5 linked regions of the Homo sapiens genome follow. The protein of the gene in region 3 purifies or fractionates together with the protein of the main gene of each other region. This does not show direct contact. Each region holds a gene or a part of one and is shown on either strand. Other genes may lie near its edges. The genes, in order: TNKS, COL1A1, TMEM44, SPAG9 and KLHL13.

Region 1 (4,594 bases), on a different chromosome or scaffold from region 3:
TGTGCACATAAAGGGCAAATAAAGAGTGAGAACCACAGACCTAGAGAAAGGCTGACTAGAACAAGTCATAATGTTATTTTCCATTGAACCTTTATAAACTAAAATGCCTGATGGGAGACAATAAATAGATACTATTTTCCCAAAATGAAGGGCATTATTCCTAATTTTTCAAGAGCATTATAAATGTCATTAGATATTTGCAAAAACGGGTCAAAGATAAATGTACAAAGCTCCTAAGTGTAGCAGAAATGTCACTTAGCTTAGTGTTTTCTGCTTGAAAGAGCAACAAGATGCTACTTATATAATAATGCAGTAGTTGTACCTACAAAATAGGTAATACATCTGTAGAACTCTGTTCCCTTTTATTCCACTTTGTCTTCATTTCATAAATTAAAAACATAAAGTGCCATTTTAAGGCAGTGATATCCAAATTTTTAAATCACACACCCTCCAGGTAGAAAAGTTTTGAGAACACTTAATATATATATATGAATTTCTTTGTAAATTATAACCAAGAAGTGCTATACTATTATAAAACTTACACAAAGAGAATTTATGAAGGATGAGAAAGAGATGAAATAATTAAAAATTTAAAAAGATTTCATGATTATTATTTTCTGAGATAGAGTACTGCTCTGTCACCCAGGCTACAGTGTAGTGGCATGATTACAGCTCACTACAGCCTCGACCTCTTGGGCTCAAGTGATTTTCCCACCTCAGCCTCCCGAGTAGCTGGGACTACAGGAATGCACCACCACATCTGGCTATTTTTTTTTATTATTTGTAGAGACGGGGTTGGCCTGTGTTGCCCAGCTGATCTCAAAATCCTGGGCTCAAGCGATCCTCCCACCTCAGTCTCCCAAAGTGCTGGGATTAAGGCATAGGCTATGGTACCTGTCCAAAACATATTTTAATTACTTATGCTAGAAAATATCCATTGACTGTAGTTTAAACATTTAAAAAAACTTATAAAAATTGTGATATTAGGAATTTGAGGGTTTAATTTTAGGTTCATTTCATTTTTCTTTAGAGACAGAGTCTTGCTCTGTTGCCCAGGCTGCAGTACAGTGGTATGATCATACCTCACTGCAGCCTCAAACTCCTGGGATCAAGTGATCTTCCTGCCTCAGCCTCCCGAGTCGCTAGGACTATAGGTGCACACCACCACGACTGGCTAATTTTTAAATTTTTTGTAGAGATAGTGTCTTGCTGTGTTGCCCAGGCTGGTGTCGAACTCCTGGCCTCAAGCAATCCTTCTGCCTTTGCCTCCTAAAGCTCTGGGATTACAGGAGTGATTACGGGCCACTACACGTGGCTCTAAGTTCATTTTTGATAATTAGTTTGAATGGCTATATTAGTTGCAAAGATTTCATACAGATTCATGGAGCCAATGAAATAAATGCATTGTTAACTATGCCTACTCAATCAGAATGCCTAATTTTAATGTAATTTACTAATTATGCTAAGGCTTTCATTGAAATTCTGTAGTAAAATTCCATCTTTACTGATGTTCTTGCGAAGTTATTAGGAAGTGCTGCATTACAATGTTTTGAATAGATTCAAAATCTACCCTAAAACCAAATTAAGGAAGGCTTTTGAACAGGTGAGAAAATTCTGTTTTTATGTGTTTAAATTATGTAGATATGACGGCTGGGTGATTCATTTATATCATTTTTCAGCAAAATCACAGAAAAGTGAACATTTTCTAAAAATCTATGTTCAAAACGTTCTCTTCATTTTTTAAAGTTTCTTTTAAAAAAGCAGTTATTTTATCATTTACCTAAAGTGTGTAACTTTTACCTTTAAGGATCTGATTATGTTTCCTTTTTAAAGGGTATCTACATGCAAGTCATGGTCATTTGTCCTCAGAGAACTATTAACAAATTTTGAACCCTTTTATTTTCATTAAAAAGAACACAACTATGACAACACCTTAAAATACTACTTCACAAAATAACCAGACCACCTTTTTACACTATAAAAGCATGTCAGGGTCACTCCCTGTGTCCCTTGTCAGGGTCACTACTCTGATCAAGTATGATATTTATAAAAGTTCTACCATTTAGGATAATATCCATAAATTCAACTCATTTGGACACAAGTAAAGTACACTATGCCAAAATATGCTGAAAGGGAACAAACAAGTGAGTTTGCCACTGTCAATCCCTCGATACTAACAAGTCCCACTCTTACCTCAGGAAACCTTGACATCACGAGTCACAATGGCTGACACGTGGACCTAGTGAGAGTGCTGGCATCATCTTTGTATTCAATATTGGTAAATCTGAATTTCCTTATTCTTAAATAAAAGTATTATAAATTGAAATGCTAGGATTTTTCCAACAGGGCATCTTGTATGCTCCATAGGGAGTCTATACCCTACTTTGGAGACAACTGCTTTGAAATATACATTCTTGAGAATGAAAAAATCTATAATTTCAAGTCACCTCTAAAAAACAACCAGTTTGCTTCTTTCCTCTCTTAAGTGCTTGACAAAGTTTCAGACTACACCATTCAGAAAATGCCAGTAAAAATTATTAAATATGTCATATTTCTTTAGTGTAGAGGTTGAGAAAATTATTACAAATCTGAAGGCATACAATTTTTTTTTTTGAGACAGATTCTCACTCTGTCTCCCAGGCTGGAGTGTAGTGGCGCAATCTCAGCTCACTGCAAGCTTCGCCTCCCAGGTTCATGCCATTCTCCTGCCTCAGCCTCCTGGGTAGCTGGGACTACAGGCACCCGCCACCACGCCCGGCTAATTTTTTGTATTTTTAGTAGAGACGGGGTTTCACCGTCTTAGCCAGGATGGTCTCCATCTCCTGACCTCGTGATCCACCTGCCTCGGCCTCCCAAAGTGCTGGGATTACAGGCGTGAGCCACTGTGCCTGGCCACAAATGTTTTTTAGAATAAGTAGAGCTATTCTGATGCTATCATTTAACATAATTTATTTTCTGATAAACTGTTATTCAAGTGGACACTATCAAAATATATCCGTATAGTATTAACTGAAAGTAATGTAAAGATGAAATCTATTTCAAATGACTATAGCTATATTTTGTTGCTTTACAGAAGGGTGACATTAAAGGATCAAGAAACACGGGTAATTATTTTTATTAGAAACAAGATCTAAATCAGCTTTATAGGAGAATCCATGAATTTAAGTACGAACTAATAGTCCTTTATAAAATTAGTTTCTTCAGAAAAATCGGAGAGAGAGAAGCAGTGTTAAGAGCAGCTGGCTGCTCAGTGCTGAGTCTGGCACTCTGCTCAGGTGTGTGCCTCACCTTGGCGCCATGCTTATGCAGAACTTCCATGACATCATTATGGGCTCTTTCGGCTGCAACATGCAGGGGAGTCATGAAACTACAGAAAAGAGGAAAGAAAGAAAAGGTAATTGTCTCTCTTTTATTGCATTTCCTCTTTAGGAACTGAACAACTCCTTCTGCAATTATACTTACTCTTTATTTTTTTCATTAACATTTGCTCCTTTTCTAAGTAACAATTCTGTCACTTGTTTACGTTTGGGATGCAGAGAGGCCACAGCACAGTGCTATAAAGTAAACAAAACCAAGTTAATAAAATACACTTCCATATGTACAGTAGCTCTTGGAATTGAACAGTATCTGCTGACCATTTAAAACATTGTTATCTCAGAGTATCAGAACATATGTATATGTTTTATATCACAGAGATGATCCATATTCTTTCTACGTATAGTGGAAATACAAAACGTAAGCGTTTAAACCAAGGTGAAATTATGCTCTTAAACATTAAGAGAGATCTTATTTCTTTTGGCTTAGCCAATCAATAAATATTCACTATATATTCCATGGAGAGCATCATAATACGTATGCCTCTGCAACGCTACAGAAATCTATAACTAAGTTACTCAATCTTTCATTAGGCCATCAGCCACACAAGTCAGTATTTCTAAGCTCTTCTACAGAGGTACTCCCAGCACTACAGGAGACGTTTATATGCCCAAGGATAAGCAAGAAAATGATAGAACTGAAGCAGTTTAGAGAAAAATATTCTCAGAAATTTTAGGTTTTAACATAATATTTATACAACTTTTTTATTCTGCTTCATTTTAATATTCGTATTAAAATTTAAAAATAAAAAACTACTTTCAACTAAATAAAATGAAAACTCCAAAAAAGTGGGTCAGGTTTATTCTGTGGCTATGAATATCTCCTAGCATAACACCGTGTAGCTTGAATCTATCTCAACCCTAGTTTGAGAGACATGTATTTAAGTGTACATATAGTTAGCCTATTTCAGTTTGGTCAATCCTTTAATGTTGTTTTATGCAGATACTGACAAACGTTTGATCTTTTGTGTCAAATATACGTAAGAATATTAATTAGGTATATTTAAGGTCTGTGATGCAGGCATCACATATGCTTAAATTCTGAATTTAGGAGCGATCACTAACCACTCTCTAGCTGAGCCTTAATGTGTCAATGACAAAGAAAATAAATAAATCTTTCCGAAAGTGCATTTGAAGAAAAAAACGTGGATAGTTTTAAGAATAATTTGTATAGTATCAAACAAAAAATTCATGATCTTGCCATTTTTCTACCATGAATA
Region 2 (3,500 bases), on a different chromosome or scaffold from region 3:
TCTCAGCTCATCCTCTTCTCCCCCCTTGCAGGGTGAACCTGGTGCTCCTGGCAGCAAAGGAGACACTGGTGCTAAGGGAGAGCCTGTAAGTCTCCCCGCCATCCTTCTTGCAGCCCAGCCCACCCTGCCCTAGGAGCCCCCTGAGGGAAATCCAGAAAGGAAGAGGAGCCCCTAGTCTTCTGGGGGAGTCCCTGCCACACCCCCAGGAACCCCTGACACTGGAGGCCCAGCCTCAGCCGGCTCTGAGGCTGGCACAGGATGGCCCCTCACCACAGGCCGCCTCCTCCTCTCGGCCCTCTCCAGGGCCCTGTTGGTGTTCAAGGACCCCCTGGCCCTGCTGGAGAGGAAGGAAAGCGAGGAGCTCGAGGTGAACCCGGACCCACTGGCCTGCCCGGACCCCCTGGCGAGCGTGTAAGTGTCCCTGCCCGCCCCCTCCCGCTCCACCCTCATTGCCTGGCTGGTGCCTGTGTGTCGCGGAGTTCACTGGCCTCCTCTCCTCCTGCAGGGTGGACCTGGTAGCCGTGGTTTCCCTGGCGCAGATGGTGTTGCTGGTCCCAAGGTAACCTCTCCTTGCGGCCGGGGGGCTGACCCTGCCGCTCCCTGGGCATCTTCTTCCTCTTTTGGCCCGTGGCAAAGAGCCACAAACTTGAGACCCTAACTGTTCCTGTGACTTCCCCCAACCAGGGTCCCGCTGGTGAACGTGGTTCTCCTGGCCCTGCTGGCCCCAAAGGATCTCCTGGTGAAGCTGGTCGTCCCGGTGAAGCTGGTCTGCCTGGTGCCAAGGTGAGGCCCCAGGCTTTCAGCCTGGCTTGGCCAGGCCCTGACCATCCCGTGTAGGGTCTGGGATGAGGCGTTCTGGATCAGGCCCAAGGGTCTGCCCTCTGGAGTCCTCCCCCACCTCCATCATGCTTCTCCCCAAGTCCCACTCATACCTCTCTGCCTCCCTAGGGTCTGACTGGAAGCCCTGGCAGCCCTGGTCCTGATGGCAAAACTGGCCCCCCTGTAAGTATCACTCCCCCTGAACCCCCTGCCATTGTCCTGTCTGCCTCCCTGCTGTCCTCACTGCTGCTTTCGTGCCTCCCATCCTTAGGGTCCCGCCGGTCAAGATGGTCGCCCCGGACCCCCAGGCCCACCTGGTGCCCGTGGTCAGGCTGGTGTGATGGGATTCCCTGGACCTAAAGGTGCTGCTGTGAGTATTAAGTGAGGATCCATGAAGAGCCAGGGACAAACACACCTGAGACTTGAAGGAGTCCTGGGCTCTGGGCTCAGCTGTGCCGCTGACCTGCCGTGTGGCCACTCACTCTCACTTTCTGGACCTCAGCCTCCCTATCTGTAAAATGAAAGACTTCTCGGCGGGGCACGGTGGCTCATGCCTGTAATCCCAGCACTTTGGGAGGCCAAGGCGGGCAGACCATGAGGTCAGGAGTTTGAGACCAGTCGGGCCAACATAGTGAAACCACGTCTCTACTAAAAATACAAAAGATTAGCTGGGTGTGGTGGTGTGCACCTGTAACCCCAGCTAGTCAGGAGGCTGAGGCAGGAGAATTGCATGAACCCGGGAGGTGGAGGTTGCAGTGAGCTGAGATCACGCCATTGCACTCCAGCCTGGGCAACAGTGCGAGATTCCATCTCAAAAAAAAAAAAAAAGAAGAAAGAAAGAAAGAAAAAATGAAACACTTCTCCAGGCTCCATGACCACTGCTCTGTCCTGGAAATAAGTGTTGTTGGTGGCCCTCCACCCCGACACGTGGGGATAGGACAGGCCTTTGATATGATAGGCACCCCCAGTCTTGGTGGATTCTTTGAGGTCCAAAAGGAGATAGCAGAGAAGATGAAAGCCCTTTGCAGTGCAGGCCACAGCGGGCATCTAACAGGGAAAAGGCAGAGGAGCCTGGAAGGGCATCTTGGGAGGAGTGGGCTCAGAAAGGGCCCAGCAAGAAGCACCTGCAGGGGCATTCCCCGGGGGCCAAACAGTCTTTTGAAAAGAAAGTCCCTTAAAAAGTCCCACTCAGAGTAAATGAGAGGCCCCAGGAGGCCCTGGCTTCTCACTTCAGCCCCCTCAACCCTAACTCCCTTTCTCCACAGGGAGAGCCCGGCAAGGCTGGAGAGCGAGGTGTTCCCGGACCCCCTGGCGCTGTCGTAAGTATCTCCTTTCCATCCCTACCTCCTTCCCATTGCTGCCCCGGCACTTTCTCCTCCCTGCAGGAGGGGTGCTAGAGGCCACGGTCCTCAGCTGCTCGGGGCCTCCTAACCCTGAGTTCCCCTTTGCTCTCTCCCTGCAGGGTCCTGCTGGCAAAGATGGAGAGGCTGGAGCTCAGGGACCCCCTGGCCCTGCTGTGAGTGTCCCTGATGGGGAGATCTGGGGAGCAGAAAAGGGGAGACACCCTCAGCCCCTCGTCTCCTCGGCCTCCCCGTGACTGTAGTGTTCTCTCTGTGCAGGGTCCCGCTGGCGAGAGAGGTGAACAAGGCCCTGCTGGCTCCCCCGGATTCCAGGTGAGGCCTCATGGCTGTCAGGATGCTGGGAGGTAGGGGTAGGAAACACCTCTTTGGTCTCTTCCAGATTCTAAACCTTCCCTCCCTTCTTCCCCCATTTCCCACCTACAGGGTCTCCCTGGTCCTGCTGGTCCTCCAGGTGAAGCAGGCAAACCTGGTGAACAGGTAAGAGGGAGCAGCCGGCCAGAGGGGTGGGAGATGCAGGGAATCCAGAGGGACAGGCCCCCGCTCCTAGCTAATCAGACAGCCATCAACTAGAGGGATTGAGGTTAGACGCCGGAAAGAACTTCCTCCCATGAAGGGAGCAGCACAGAGGGAAGTGGGGGCTGCATGATTGCTAGTCTGGGTGACTTCTTTTAAGAGCTGCTGGAATATGCTGTGACTTTCCCTCAACCCTTCTATTGATAAATCTTGGTCCATAGTTTGGGGAGGGGGGAAGCCTTTGACACATCCCTAGGAGGAAGAGAGGGGCTGTTTGGGATAATCTCAATTCAGTGCTGAGAAGGGGTTCCTCTCTAATCACGGCCAGACCCCAGGAGGAAGGACCGTGCTTTCCAGCAGAGTGGCCCCAGGTGGGTTTTGCTCACTGTCTGTTCCTCTCTCCCTCCCCCTCAGGGTGTTCCTGGAGACCTTGGCGCCCCTGGCCCCTCTGGAGCAAGAGTAAGTAGGCCTCTCTCGCTGCATCCGTCAAGGTGCGTCGTACTTGGCCCTATCTCCAGAGCAGCCTTCACATGCCCTGTCCTTCCCTTCTAGGGCGAGAGAGGTTTCCCTGGCGAGCGTGGTGTGCAAGGTCCCCCTGGTCCTGCTGGTCCCCGAGGGGCCAACGGTGCTCCCGGCAACGATGGTGCTAAGGTGAGGGCAGCGTGGAAGGGGCTCTGGCAAGTGGCCCAGGGACCAGGTCTCACCCCTCCTGCAGCAGGGGATGGCGGGCCATGACCAAAGCCATGGAGATAGGGTGTGGGGTGGGGGGAAAAGACCAGGGCAGGGGCCCACACACAGCCTGGAGTC
Region 3 (4,594 bases):
ACACAAATGCAATTATTTGTAGTTTTATGTTTCCTTTTTTTGTTTGTTTGTTTTGAGATGGAGTCTCGCTGTGTTGCCCAGGCTGGAGTGCAGTGGCGTGATCTTGGCTCACTGCAACCTTCACCTCCCAATTTCAAGCAATTCTCCTGCCTCAGCCTCCCGAGTAGCTGGGACTACAGGTGCATGCCAACACGTCTGGCTAATTTTTGTTATTTTTAGTGGAGACTAAAAATGTTTGTATTTTTAGATGCTGACTGTGGTTAATGGCTGTGGCGTGTTGGTGGTGGGGTGTGTGTGAAGGCAAGGCAGGGCCACGCCGTCTGCAGGCGCTAAGAGGGGAATCTTCGCTTGCCTCTTCCAGCTGCCAGTGGAGCTGCAGGAGCTGCTAGTGGCTCCTGGTGTCCCTTGATGCATGGCAGTGTCGTTTACATTTCTGCCTTGCCCTTCATGTGGCCTTCTTCCCTTTGTGTATCTTCGTGTGTCTCCTTTTCTTATAGGGACCCCAGCTGTTGGAGTTAGGGCCCAGTCCAATCCACTATGACTTCATTGTCTAATTGTATCAGCAAGGACCCTACTTCCGAATAAGGTCACAGTCTGGGCCGGGCACGGTGGCTCACGACTGTAATCCCAGCACTTTGGGAGGCCAAGATGGGAGGATCATCTGAGATCAGGAGTTTGAGACCAGCCTGGCCAACATGGTGAAACCCGGTCTCTACTAAAAATACGAAAATTACCCGAGCATGATGGCAGGTGCCCGTAATCCCAGCTACTTGGGAGGCTGAGGCGAGAGAATCGCTTGAACCAGGGAGGCAGGGGTTGCAGTGAGCTAAGATCATACCACCGCACTCCAGCCTGGGTGACAGAGCGAGACTCTGTCTCAAAAAAAAAAAGGGGGTCACATTCAGAGGTGGATCTGAATTTTGAGGGACACTATTCAACCCACTGCATGTATTGTCACTGTAAGCCAGGCCTGTCAAGAAAGACGTTTTCCAAAATGCTTTAGTTTTGCAAATATTTACCATGTCCTTGTTAGGGACAGGGTCACATTGGATGCTGGGCCCTCGTGAGGACAGGAACATCCACCCTAGCCCTGTCTTCAGATGAGCTCCTCTCTGTCCCAGGCAGGATAATACAGGGGAGGGAGGAGAGTAGGTGAGTGGGGAGGGGGGTGGCAGCATGGTGTGGAGGGGTGAAGGGCCACGCTAGGCAGCTGGAATATTCTGCTTCCTACCTTAACTTACACCATCTCAGATTATTTTCCTTTCGTGTGTGATGAAGAGCAAGATGAGACAGGCCTTAGGATTTGCCAAGGAAGCCAGAGAGAGCCCTGACACCCAAGCCCTTTTGACCTGTGCAGAGAAAGAGGAAGAAAACCAGGAGGTGAGGAACGAGGACAAGGTCTCTCTGGCTGGAAAACTCTGGTCCCAGCAACAGTATCTTGAGAAACAGCAGGATACTGCGGACGGACGTGTGAAAGCTGCCTGCCGAGTGTTCTCTGCAGGCGACTCAGACAGCTGTCCTGTCTCGCTGAGGGAATAGTGGCCAAACCTAACACATGACATGTAACGGGCCCTTCCTGTTTACTGGCATGGAGTGGACGGGGCATTGAGCCTCCATGAGGGCCGGGGCTTGGGAATTCCAGAAGTCCCTCCCTGCTTGCCCAGTTGGTCGCTTTATTTTTATTTTTTTTTAATCTATTGATTGATTGAGATGGAGTCTTGCTCTGTTGCCCAGGCTGGAGTGCAGTAGCACAATCTCAGCTCACTGCAACCTCCGCCTCCCAGATTCAAGTAATTCTCCTGCCTCAGCCACCCAAGTAGCTGGGATTACAGGCACATGTCACCACGCCCGGCTAATATTTTGTATTTTTAGTAGAGACAGATGGGGTTTCACCATGTTGGCCAGGCTGGTCTCGAACTCCTGACCTCAGGTGATCTGCCCACCTTGGCCTCCCAAAGTGCTGGGATTACAGGCATAAGCCGTGGTGCGTAGCCCAGTTGGTCACTTTAAAAAGCTACTGTCTATGTTCAAAGCTAAGGGAAGCCTGAATGCCATAGGATCCTCCGGTTTCGCAATTATACAAATGTTTTGAAGTTTTTTGGTCACTTAATGGCTTATATTTTTAGCAATGTAGATGGAATAGTCGCATGCCCACTTGAAGCTTTTGAATAATTTACTTACTGGTAGTTAAGTTCACATGCTACATACCTTAATATATTCATTTTTAAATAATGTGATTTTTGGCCGGGTGCAGTGGCTCATGCCTGTAATCCCAGCACTTTGGGTGGCCAAGGCAGGCAGATTGCTTGAGCTCAGGAGCTCAAGACTAGCCTGGGCAACAGGGTGAAACCCCGTCTCTACCAAAAATACAAAAAAAATTGGCCGGGTATGGTGGTGTGTGCCTGTAGTCCCAGCTACTTAGGAGGCTGAGGCAGGAGGATCTCTTGATCCTGGAGGCAGAGGTTGCAGTGAGCCAAGATGGCGCCACCGCACTACAACCTGAGCTGCAGAGTGAGACCCCATCTCAAAAACATAAGTAAATTATGTGATTTTCACTCATATTTCTTCAAAAACTGTATTCCCACTTTCACATGCATCTTTAATATCCACATCATTACCACCACCTAACACGGTGCTCCAGAGCCTGTCGTCATGCCCAGCTACATGATCCAGCCTTTGGAAATCGGCTTGTGATGCTGCCTCTAGAAAGTCCTCTCAAGCCACGAGGACCCATTTGCTGTTTGTGGTCACTGCAATGTAACTACTTACTCTATTCCTTGTGGTTTTTTTGGTTTTTTGTTTTGTTTTGTTTTATTTTGTTTTTTGGAGACGGAGTTTTGCTCTTGTTGCCGAGGCTGGAGTGCCGTGGCACGATCTCGGCTCACCACAACCTCCGCCTCCCGGGTTCAAGCGATTCTCCTGCCTCAGCCTCCCAAGTAGCTGGGATTACAGGCATGCACCACCATGCCCGGCTAATTTTGTATTTTTAGTAGAGACTGGGTTTCTCCATGTTGGTCAGGCTGGTCTCAAACTCCCAACCTCAGATGATCCGCCCACCTCGGCTTCCCAAAGTGCTGGGATTACAGGTGTGAGCCACCGGGCCCGGCCTATTCTGTTTTTTTATGCTAGAAATCTGATCTTTAAGTGTTGTTTAGGAGGTCATGTGCAGTGGCTCACGCCTGTAATCCCAACACTTTGGGAGGCCGAGGTGGGTGCATCATGAGGTCAGGAGTTCGAGACCAGCCTGACCAACGTGGTGAAACTCCTGTCTCTACTAAAAATACAAAAATTAGCTGGGTGTGGTGGCACGCGCCTGTAATTCCAGCTACTCAGGAGGCTGAGGCAGGAGAATCGCTTGAACCTGGGAGGCGGAGGTTGCAGTAAGCCAAAATCGCACCATTGCACTCCAGCCTAGGCAACAAGAGCAAAACTCCGTCTCGAAAAAAAACTTTTTTTTTAAAGTGTTCATTAAGCCAGGCATGGTGCCTCATGCCTGTAATGCCAGCACTTTGGGAGGCCGAGATGGGCAGATTGCCTGAGCTCAAGAGTTCGAGACCAGCCTGGGCAACGTGGTGAAACTCCGTCTCTACTAAAAATACAAAAATCAGCTGGGCGTGGTGGCGGGCACCTGTAATCCCAGCTACTCAGGAGGCTGAGACATGAGAATCACTTGAACCCAGGAGGCGGAGGTTGCAGTGAGCCGGGATCGTGCCACTGTACTCCAGCCTGGGCAATAAAGTGAAAATCTGTCTCAAGAAAATAAATAAATAAATAAATAAAAATAAAAAATAAGTGTTGTTTACAGCAATATCAAACCTTTACAATTATGTCATGCCACCGGCTAAAGTTAATGCGTCTCCTTTTATTGATTTAAACAGATGACCTCTACAAGTAGTCAGAACTTACTCTAATTGAGGCCATTTGTCTTCATCAAAAGTTTTTGGTTCCAAATAATTGAGAAAGTAACTCAAAGAAAGCTTGTAAGGACTTGAATATAGGCTGGGTGCAGTGGTTCAGGCCTGTAGTCCCAGCACTTTGGGAGGCAGAGGCGGGCGGATCACGAGGTCAGGAGATCGAGACCACAGTGAAACCCCGTCTCTACTAAAAATACAAAAAATTAGCTGGGCGCGGTGGCGGGTGCCTGTAGTCCCAGCTACTCGGGAGGCTGAGGCAGGAGAATGGCGTGAACCCAGAAGGCGGAGCTTGCAGTGAGTCGAGATCCCGCCACTGCACTCCAGCCTGGGCGACAGAGCGAGACTCCGTCTCAAAAAAAAGGACTTGAATATAAAATGGCTCCCTCTTTTCTAAGATTTCAATTTTTTTTTTTTTTTGGAAAAAACTCTCATCTATTACCTGGGCTCTTCACTACCTTAGACTCCTCTCACAGAGAGTGGGTGTGAGGCTGTGAGTAACTTCCTCCGTGGCCAGGATGGAGGAAGTGATGGGGAGTGCATTTGGACCGACAAAAACAAAAACTGCCCCTCCGAATGTTCTCCAAATGGCTTAACCATGTGATCCGACTGAGTCCGTGAAATAGAAGATCGTGGTGTATGTGACGCAGAGGAAAGCATTTTTTATATAGGTGCCCAGACCA
Region 4 (4,594 bases), on a different chromosome or scaffold from region 3:
AGCCACCACACCCGGCCATCAGTTTTCACATAAGATCATAAATTGTGTGTTGCTCAGTATCCAGAAATTGTCTCCCTTTGGCCAATATGTAGAGTGAATTCTGTGTTTAGTTTTCTGTGAGTGCTTTGTTTGCGCCTTTTTTTTTTTTTTTTTTTTTTTTGAGACGGAGTCTTGCTCTGTCACCCAGGCTGGAGTGCAGTGGCACAATCTTGACTCACTGCAGCCTCCGCCTCCCGGGTTCAAGCGATTCTGCCTCAGCCTCTTGAGTAGCTGGGATTACAAGCACGTGCCACCACGCCTGGCTAATTTTTTTGTATTTTTGGTAGAGACGGGGTTTCACCATTTTAGCCAGGATAGTCTCAATCTCCTGACCTCGTGATCTGCCCGCCTCAGCCTCCCAAAGTGCTGGGATTACAGGCATGAGCCACCGTGCCGGCCTGTTTGTGTCTTTAATGCGGAGACCAAGAGTCTTTTATACCAAAGTAAGTGCCTCAGGGTATTTACAGCAAAAGTGATTTGAAAGCATGGAAATTATCCATCACCAGAGAGAGTAAAGTAAATTCTGAGCACCTCTGTGGAAACTTAGGTGGGTATGTAGATAGAATGTTTTAGGAATGTGTGAGGTGCTATGATCTCTTGCTTGCAGGAATTCTCAGCAAGGCATCAAAAATTTAATCTTTATATTGATAGGACATATTTTGAATACCTTCTGACTTTTTCCTTTGCTTTTATTTGAATTTCTAGTGTGGAGCTAGTCTGCTGTTTTAGGGATTCTTTAAAAACAACCTAAAGAAGGGCTAATTTTAGATAGATTTGGACCGGTTTCAGATGCTAATCAAGAAATCTGTCATCTTATCGCCCATCACTCTCTCCTTTGGGCTGCCTGTGACACACCTCTCCATTCTTTAACCAAGACCCGTCTGATGCCTTTGCCCATGCTCTAGAATGCTCTCCTTAGAATTTTACATAGCTAGCTCCTCACTTTCTACTCTGTTTCAATTTCACTTTTTCAGCCAGAACATCCTGTTGACTCTATCCAGAATAAGCCCTGTGAACCTATTGAATAATTTATTTTAAAATCAGTGACTTTTAAATTTAAATTCTTTTTGGAGACAGAGTCTCAATCGCCTAGGCTGGGGTGTAGTGGCACAGTCACAGTTCACTGCAGCCTCAATCTCTTGGGCTCAAGTGATCCTCTTGCCTCAGCCTCCTGAGTAGCTAGGACCACAGACATGCGTTACCACACTGGGCTAATTAAATTTTTTACAGAGACAAGGTCTCACTGTGTTGCCCAGTCTGGTCTGGAACTCCTGGGCTCAAGTGATCCTCCTGCCTTGTGGATCCTGCCAAAGTGTTGGGACTTACAGGGGTGAGCCACTGTGCCCCAGCCCAGTGATTTTTTAAAATAAAAATCTGGATACAAAATGATCTGGAGAGAGAGGTTATAACTGGGTATGTTAGGGTTTTTCTGCAACTTCTGATTCTTTTAAAACAGGCATGATTTGCTGTAACTTTTAAAAAAGGGCCAGGTGTGGTGGCTCACATCTATAGTCCCAGCACTTTGGGAGGCCGAGGCAGATGGATCACTTGAGGTCAGGAGTGTGGGACCAGCCTCGCCAACATGATGAAACCCTGTCTGTACTAAAAATACAAAAATTATCTGGGTGTGGTGGTGGGTGCCTGTAATCCCAGCTACTGGGGAGGCTGATGCAGAAGAATTGCTTGAACCCGGGAGATGGAGGTTGCAGTGAGCTGGGATCGTGCCTCTGTACTCCAGCCTGGGCAGTAGAGTGAGACTACCTCTCAAAAAAGAAAAAAGAAAAAAAAAAGAAACTTCTGAAAAGTAGACATACGAGTTTAAAGAACCTTTAGGAATTTAGTTCTTAGTGATTCTGTGGGTCTTTTATGTTATCACTGTTATTCTCAAAGTGAGAGCTCATTTAGCATCATTCAGTAGAGGGAGATTACACATAAAAACGAAGAGGCATTGTCTTCCTTCCTTTTCTTTTTCTTTTCTTTTCTTTTCTTTTCTTTTTTTTTGAGATGGAGTTTCTCTTGTTGCCCAGGCTAGAGTGCAATGGTGCCATCTCGGCTCACTGCAACCTTCGCCTCCTGGGTTCAAACAGTTCTCCTGCCTCAGCCTCTCAAGTAGCTGGGATTACAGGCATGCGCCACCACGCCTGGCTAATTTTGTATTTTTAGTGGAGTTGGGGTTTCTGCATGTTGGTCAGGCTGGTCTTGAACTCCTGACCTCAGGTGATCCGCCCGCCTTGGCCTCCTAAAGTGCTGGGATTGCCACTGTGAACCACCGCGCCTGGCTCCTTCCCTCCTTTTTGAGATAGACTCATACATGCAGAGAATGGACTGAAGAGAGAATATCTTTACTGGGAATGGATTATGTGATTTTGTGTCTGCTTTTTTGTGGCCTTTTGCTTTAAAAAAAAAAAAAAAAGGATGAGTTCAAGCCTGGGCAACGTAGTGAGACCCCTCTTCCCCAAAAACCATAAAAAAAATTAGTTGGGTGTGATGGTGTGAGCCTGTAGTCCTAGCTACTCAGGAGGCTAAGGCAGGAGGATCACTTAAGCCCAGGAGTTTGAGACTGCAGTGAGTTATCATGGCCACGGCACTCCAGCCTTGACAACAGGGCAAGACCCTGTTTCTTACCAAAAAACAAAACAATAGGATGACTGAATGCAGAGGTGAGAGACACTACTGAGAATTTTCTAACTTGTTCCCATGGAATCAGCACTTAAAGCAGTAACAAAATGATTTTTGTTTAAATGGAGACTTTTGACACTTCTTGTCTTTGGAAGTGTATGAACATGGGACCCGTAAGACTCATGGGCAGGAAAATAGGTATTGACATTCATTGTTCTTGTTTTAGTGTTCTCATTCATTCATAATTTTTTTTTTTTTTGAGACAGAGTCTCACTCTGTCACCCAGGCTGGAGTGCAGTGGCACTATCCCAGCTCATTGCAACCTCTGCCTCCCAGGTTCAAGCAATTCTCCTGCCTCAGCTGCCTGAGTAGCTGGGATTACAGGTGTGCACCACTACACCCGGCTAATTTTTGTATTTTCAGTAGAGACAGGGTTTCACCATGTTGGCCAGGGTGGTGTAAAACTCCTGACCTCAAGTGATTCATCTGCCTCAACCTCCCAAAGTGCTGGGATTACAGGCGTGAGCCACCACACTTGGCCCACACTTGATATTTTATTTTTTAATTTTATTTATTTTTGAGACTGAGTTTCACGCTCTGTTGCCCAGGCTGGGGTGCAGAGGCACGATCTTGGCTTACTGCAACCTCTGCCTTCTGGATTCAAGCAGTTCTTCTGTCTCAGCCTTCTGAGTAGCTGGGATTATAGGCATGAGCCACCATGCCCAGCTACTTTTTGTATTTTTAGTAGAGATGGGGTTTCACCATGTTAGCCAGGCTGGTCTTGAACTCCTGACCTTGTTATCTGCCTACCTTGGCCTGCCAAAGTGTTGGGATTACAGGCATGAGCCACCATGCCTGGCCCATTTTTTAAAAAATTTATTTTTGAGACAGAGTCTTGTGCTGTCGCCCAGGCTGGAGTGCAGTGGTGCGATCTCAGATCACTGTAACTCCCACCTTCCAGGTTCAAGCAATTCTCCTGCCTCAGCCTCCCTAGTAGTTTGGGATTACAGGCACGCGCCAGCACGCCCGGCTAATTTTTGTAGTTTTAATAGAGAAGGGGTTTCACCATGTTGTCCAGGCTGGTCTCAAACTCTTGACCTCAGGTGATCCCCCTGCCTCGGCCTCCCAAAGTGCTGGGATTACAAGCGTGAGCCACCGCACCTGGCCTAAAAAACACATATTTTAATATTTTTATAGATCTTTTGATTGATTGATTGAGACGAGATCTCACTCTGTTGCCCAGGCCAGAGTGCAGTGGTGTAATCCCGGCTGACTGCAACCTCTGCCTCCTGGGTTCAAGCGATCCTCCCATCTCAACTTCCGGAATAGCTGGGACTACAGGATCATGCCGCCATGCCTGGCTAATTTTTGTATTTTTTGTAGAAATGGGTTTCCCATGTTGCCCAGGCTGATCTTGAATATTTGGGCTCAGACATTCCTCGCACCTCAGCCTCCCAAAGTGCTGTGATTACAGGTGTGAGCCACTGCACCCAACCTATTTTCTTTTGTTGTTGTTGTTTTTTTTTTTTTTGAGATGGGGTCTTGCTTTGCCACCCATGCTGGAGTGCAGTAGCGCGATCTTGGCTCACTGCAACCTCTGCCTCCCGGGTTCAAGCAGTTCTCCTGCCTCATCCTCCTGAGTAGCTGGGACTACAGGTGCTCACAACCACACCTCGCTAACTTTTGTATTTTTAATAGAGATGGGGTTTTACCATGTTGTCCAGGCTGGTATTGAACTCCTAACCTCAGGTGATCCACCTGCCTTGGCCTCCCAAAGTGCTGGGATTACAGGTGTGAGACACTGTGCCCGGCCAACCTATTTGCTTTTTCTTTTCTTTCTTTTTTTTTTTTTTTTTTGATATGGCATTTCACACTTGTTGCCCAGGCTGGAGCGCAATGGTGCGATCTCAGCTCACTGCAACCTCCGCCTCCCAGA
Region 5 (4,594 bases), on a different chromosome or scaffold from region 3:
AAACTAGATATAATATGCTAGTAAGTTTGTTCTAATGTAGAATTTAGTTGAATTATTTGTTTATCAAATTCCTTTTAAATACCTGACAGTATCAATGTAGCTTTTTTTCACAATAGCATTATATTTCACTTGAAAGCTATTGACATCCAAGTAATTTTTATACAAATTATTCATAGCTTGTCTGGTTTCCATGTTATAATCCTGTAATATCAAGTCATATTCTATTCTGTTTTAATATGATCATTTTAAAATTTATCAAACTCATTAGATGTTTCAGACTTTCTTTGTTTCCTGGTATTAGATATGTACCTCTCTCTATTTAATAGAGGTTGAAGTTTTGATACATTGGGTAAGTTTAATACAGTGAAGAGAAAAAACATGTTTAAAAACATTAAACATTAAACATTAAAACATTAAACATTAAAAATAGCATTAAAATGCTATTTTCCAGCATCAAAATAGCATTAAATGACGCTATTTTTCCAGGATATGGAGAAGAAAATAAAGGAAGATATGGGGAGATTTATAGAAGAAGAAAGGGAAATATTAAAGAAATTGAGGACAGACAAACCCCTCTTAAATCAAACCCAAGGCACAGAGACAGAAAAGTAGAGAACTAAGATAAGTGTTGAGATAGAGAGACTGGAAAGATGATGAGTTTAAATCAACAGAAGCAGTTTTAAGGACATTCTGAAAAACTAATTAGAAACTGAACAATTTGCCTAAAGCAGAGCTGCATAGGTATATGGTATACTAGCATATGGAAACAGACAAAAATGTTCATGTAAATCTTTCAAGAAGAGTGAGTACAAGTTTGGTGAAAGAAAATGATTTTACAGTAAAAGGACTTATTTCGAGTGTGCAGGAATCTTTGAAAGGCTTCTTAAATAGGGGAAAAGATTTATGAGTGAAAGCAAAAAGTAGATATATAGAAGGCAGATGAGAATTTTGGAAGATAATGAACCTCTCTCTTTTTCTTTTAATGTATGCATACTTCACTAGAAGATTAGAGAATAAAAGGTGTTTAGAGAAATGACTGCCTTCTTGTACACAACAATGTGTATAGTCAGAAGGAGCTTCTCTTTAGACAGAACTGGGATATCTGGAAAATAATATACAAACAAGATGTTTAGAATTTGTTTGAAAACAATCTGAATTGACAGATATCATTTGGATAAAGATAGACATAACGTAGAATAAAATTCACTAATATGGAATTGGATAGTGGGGTCATTCATTTATGCATATAAAAATAAAGGTTATGAAATGTTTAGAAAGGGACACTGTATGTTGTGAAAATAAATGTAAAACCTTACAAAAGCAGATAACTTGCCAAAGGTAGATACATTAAGCGTGGAATAAAAGACACTCCGAATTTGTTAAAAATGCTCTAGGTGCCTTAACTTCTTTTCTTTTGGGACACCAGATTATACTGAGAAAGGTTAAAGGATTTTTTAAAAATGATAGTGTAAAGGGACACAAAATGATAAAATCTGTGAAAAGAATAAAAGCTCCCGGTGTCTTAGCTGAGCAAAGCTGTCCAGATCTTGAGCATTGATTACATACCTCCACAAGCAGTTTGAATGGAATATGGACAAAACAAGAAATTACACAGCTGACGATACATGATGCACAAGCTACTCCTCTTTTCAGAGGGAAAAAAAAGTAATATGTAGTAGGAATGGAACATACTGACATTATTCAATTCCAATTGTAAAATATTTGCAGGAATATTTTAAAGGCAGGAGGCTAGCAAATAAGCCAAGAAGGTTTTGTTTGTTTGTTTGTTTTTGTTCTTTAGTGGAAGAAAATAATGGATCAGATACAATCATTGCTTTTGAATAAATAATCCAGAATTTCTTTATAAAGATATTGTCTACGTATGCTTTAGAGAAGAAGAATAAAAAACTATTTGATAAATAAACATAAAGGGGGCATACAGTACCTAGACTCATCTCATTAGTATCTTGACATCTCTTTTTTATGCCAATGCCCAAGGTATGTTACTTTTCCCAAGAAAAATCAAATCCTTTAACTTGCCATTAGCTATTCAAAACTTTAAAAATAAATATCCTTCGAACCAACAACTCCAGTCCTGAGAATATCTCCCACAGATATACTTAGACAGCTAAGTGTATGTACAAGGAAGTTAATTGCGGCATTGCTTATAACTGCAGAATTTGAGGGAAAACCTGAGTGTTCAACTAAGCGGGAATGGATAAATAACTTATGACATGCCCCTACTGTAGATTACTGTGCATGCACTAAAAGAATGAAATAAATCCTGTGCACTGAGATAGAAGACTATCTGTGTTATCTGCTCAAGTGAATTTTAAAATGCACAACAGTATGTATAGTAACCCACTTTAAAGAGGCCTTTATATATTTTAATACAAGCATAATGTAGATTATGATATATAGAGAATGAGGTCTTGAAGTATGCTTACTAAACTGTTAACAGTGGTTACTTCTAGTAAGTGAAAGAGGTAGCCTTTAAGTTTTTAACTTATATCCTTCTGTATTTTGACTTCAAAAAACATACAAGCACATATTTAATTTTTTAAACCTGAAATTTATATGAGGGATAAAACAAACACAAGTTTGGGAGCCAACGTTTTCTCCCCAACTCCTGGTTCACTACCTTTTCTCTTACCTTAACCTTTACCACTACCACAAACTACCACAAACGAACACAAACGAACACTTTAAGCACAACTCATTTTATTATTGGGAGAGGTTTCACAAATAAGTTCCTGGTTTCCAGTTAACTTGTTGCAAAGTTTACATCCTACCCAATGTGACTACATGGCTTTAAAGTTACCAGTGGTAGCTTCTGAGTAAAATTTTGTTTGTTTGTTCATGCGTTAATGGAACATATATTAAGTACCAACAGTATGCCAAACACTGGGGAATTCAAAGATGCTAGTCTCTCAACTGTTTCAGCTGATGCTTGACTATCCTCTCCCACACCCTAGTGTCCTCATTCACTGCTTCCCAATACTCTACATTTGAAAGGTGATTCCCACAAATTTATTGCAATTTAGACCCCATATATCAATGCCGAGATCGCGCCACTGCACTCCAGCCTGGGCGACAGAGCGAGACTCTGTCTCAAAAAAACAAAACAAAAAAAGAGCTGAAGTGACTCTTCTCATGCCTTCAGCATGAGAATATTCCCTTAAAATTGGCATCTCTTTTTATAAGATGAGCTATTATTATTTTACTTCTACTTTTCTAAATAACAGAGACAGCAGACGAATTAGTAATGGAAAATAAAAATAGTGGCATAGGATATATAATGTTTGGGTTTACAAAGAAAAAGGGGCATTTGTGAAAGATTTGATATTTGTTAACATAAACATGTCAATCATTGTTGGAAAAAGAAAAATATGATATATAATCTTGTTTTAAAGTGTATGTATAATGTATAAATATTTTTGGAATAAAAATATTCATCTCTTTCCCTAGAGGGAGAGTGGCTGGATCAGATCATCTCTTTGAAGTTCCAGTTCTGTAATTCAAGCATTTTCTTTAAAAAGCTTTAAAATTAAAATGAGAAGCTTAACTAGGGTTTATACTACACATATGTGTAGGATCAATATTTTTAAAACTGCATTCTTAATATGTTATGCCTTTTGCTCTTTAAATCTGTGAAACAAAACATAGTTTTATTTGAAGTCATTAAAATATGAAGGGGACAGAGTAATCAATGCTGTTGGTTCTTACTGTATTATATTATTAGAAAGCAATTTGTGTATTTTGTGTATCTGTCTTCCTGGTTTTTTATAATGAAACATTTCTATCTTTGAAACTACAGACTCAATCTTGCCAAAATGTTCATTTTTTGTATCATTGTTAAATTGCATATTGTTCCCTTTTGGTGTACTTTAGTAGCCTGTTACAATCTTTTTAAATTCGTTATTCTTAATCGACAAATAAACATTATATATAATTTGTCATGTAAAACATGATATTTTAATCACATCATGGTAAATGGGGTATCCATCCCCTAAAGCATACATCTCTGTACCCACAAAAATTAAAAATAAAAGATAAAAATTGAAAAACATGATGTTTTGAAATATGTGTATGTTGTAGATTCAACCTGTTATAATCTTAAAAGTGATTGTCATTCTTCCAACTTATATCAATAGAACAACTGTCTATTTGTCGTTAGTTGAGACCATCAGGGTGTAGTGAAAAAGCTAATCAACAAGGATTCTTCTCACCAGAGCTCTGTCACTCCTCTGAATTGTGGCTGCTAGCCTGTTAATTCTCCACTAAACCTTTAGGCATTTGGAGACAATTAAGTCTCATGTTGGGGTTTCCTGGGCTTTTTTTTGTTTTTTTTCAAACAAAGATAATTAAGTCTCAAACTTGAAACTTGAAAGATATTTGGCCAGGCAGCAGCAATGTACTGAGTATAGGCTTCTCAAAGAGATGAAGTAATACAATTAGTAGAAAGAACTATCGTGTACTTAATACAGTTGCTCTCTACTTTTCTTTCTCAACCTCCCCCAAAACAAAACAAAACCAAGATGCTTCAGTCAAGCACTATAAAAGGACTATTAAATTATCGCGAAAAGGAATGTTA

Evidence for each region.
Region 1: the proteins of TMEM44 (region 3) and TNKS purify together in Homo sapiens (affinity purification with mass spectrometry; 2 studies listed by BioGRID and IntAct, with this or other methods). This does not show direct contact.
Region 2: the proteins of TMEM44 (region 3) and COL1A1 purify together in Homo sapiens (affinity purification with mass spectrometry; one large-scale study listed by BioGRID and IntAct). This does not show direct contact.
Region 4: the proteins of TMEM44 (region 3) and SPAG9 purify together in Homo sapiens (affinity purification with mass spectrometry; 2 studies listed by BioGRID and IntAct, with this or other methods). This does not show direct contact.
Region 5: the proteins of TMEM44 (region 3) and KLHL13 purify together in Homo sapiens (affinity purification with mass spectrometry; one large-scale study listed by BioGRID and IntAct). This does not show direct contact.

The regions. Positions count from the first base shown.
Region 1 is NC_000008.11:9,708,915-9,713,508, reverse strand, and holds part of TNKS (poly [ADP-ribose] polymerase tankyrase-1), read right to left. Parts: intron 3,555-4,594; coding exon 3,463-3,554; intron 3,368-3,462; coding exon 3,289-3,367; intron 1-3,288.
Region 2 is NC_000017.11:50,191,632-50,195,131, reverse strand, and holds part of COL1A1 (collagen alpha-1(I) chain preproprotein), read left to right. Parts: intron 1-31; coding exon 32-85; intron 86-303; coding exon 304-411; intron 412-505; coding exon 506-559; intron 560-684; coding exon 685-783; intron 784-948; coding exon 949-1,002; intron 1,003-1,090; coding exon 1,091-1,189; intron 1,190-2,084; coding exon 2,085-2,138; intron 2,139-2,281; coding exon 2,282-2,335; intron 2,336-2,438; coding exon 2,439-2,492; intron 2,493-2,603; coding exon 2,604-2,657; intron 2,658-3,107; coding exon 3,108-3,152; intron 3,153-3,245; coding exon 3,246-3,344; intron 3,345-3,500. UniProt on the Homo sapiens protein: Type I collagen is a member of group I collagen (fibrillar forming collagen).
Region 3 is NC_000003.12:194,612,355-194,616,948, reverse strand, and holds part of TMEM44 (transmembrane protein 44), read left to right. Parts: intron 1-1,251; coding exon 1,252-1,380; intron 1,381-4,594.
Region 4 is NC_000017.11:51,113,275-51,117,868, reverse strand, and holds part of SPAG9 (C-Jun-amino-terminal kinase-interacting protein 4), read left to right. Parts: intron 1-4,594. UniProt on the Homo sapiens protein: The JNK-interacting protein (JIP) group of scaffold proteins selectively mediates JNK signaling by aggregating specific components of the MAPK cascade to form a functional JNK signaling module.
Region 5 is NC_000023.11:117,920,724-117,925,317, reverse strand, and holds part of KLHL13 (kelch-like protein 13), read left to right. Parts: intron 1-4,594. UniProt on the Homo sapiens protein: Substrate-specific adapter of a BCR (BTB-CUL3-RBX1) E3 ubiquitin-protein ligase complex required for mitotic progression and cytokinesis.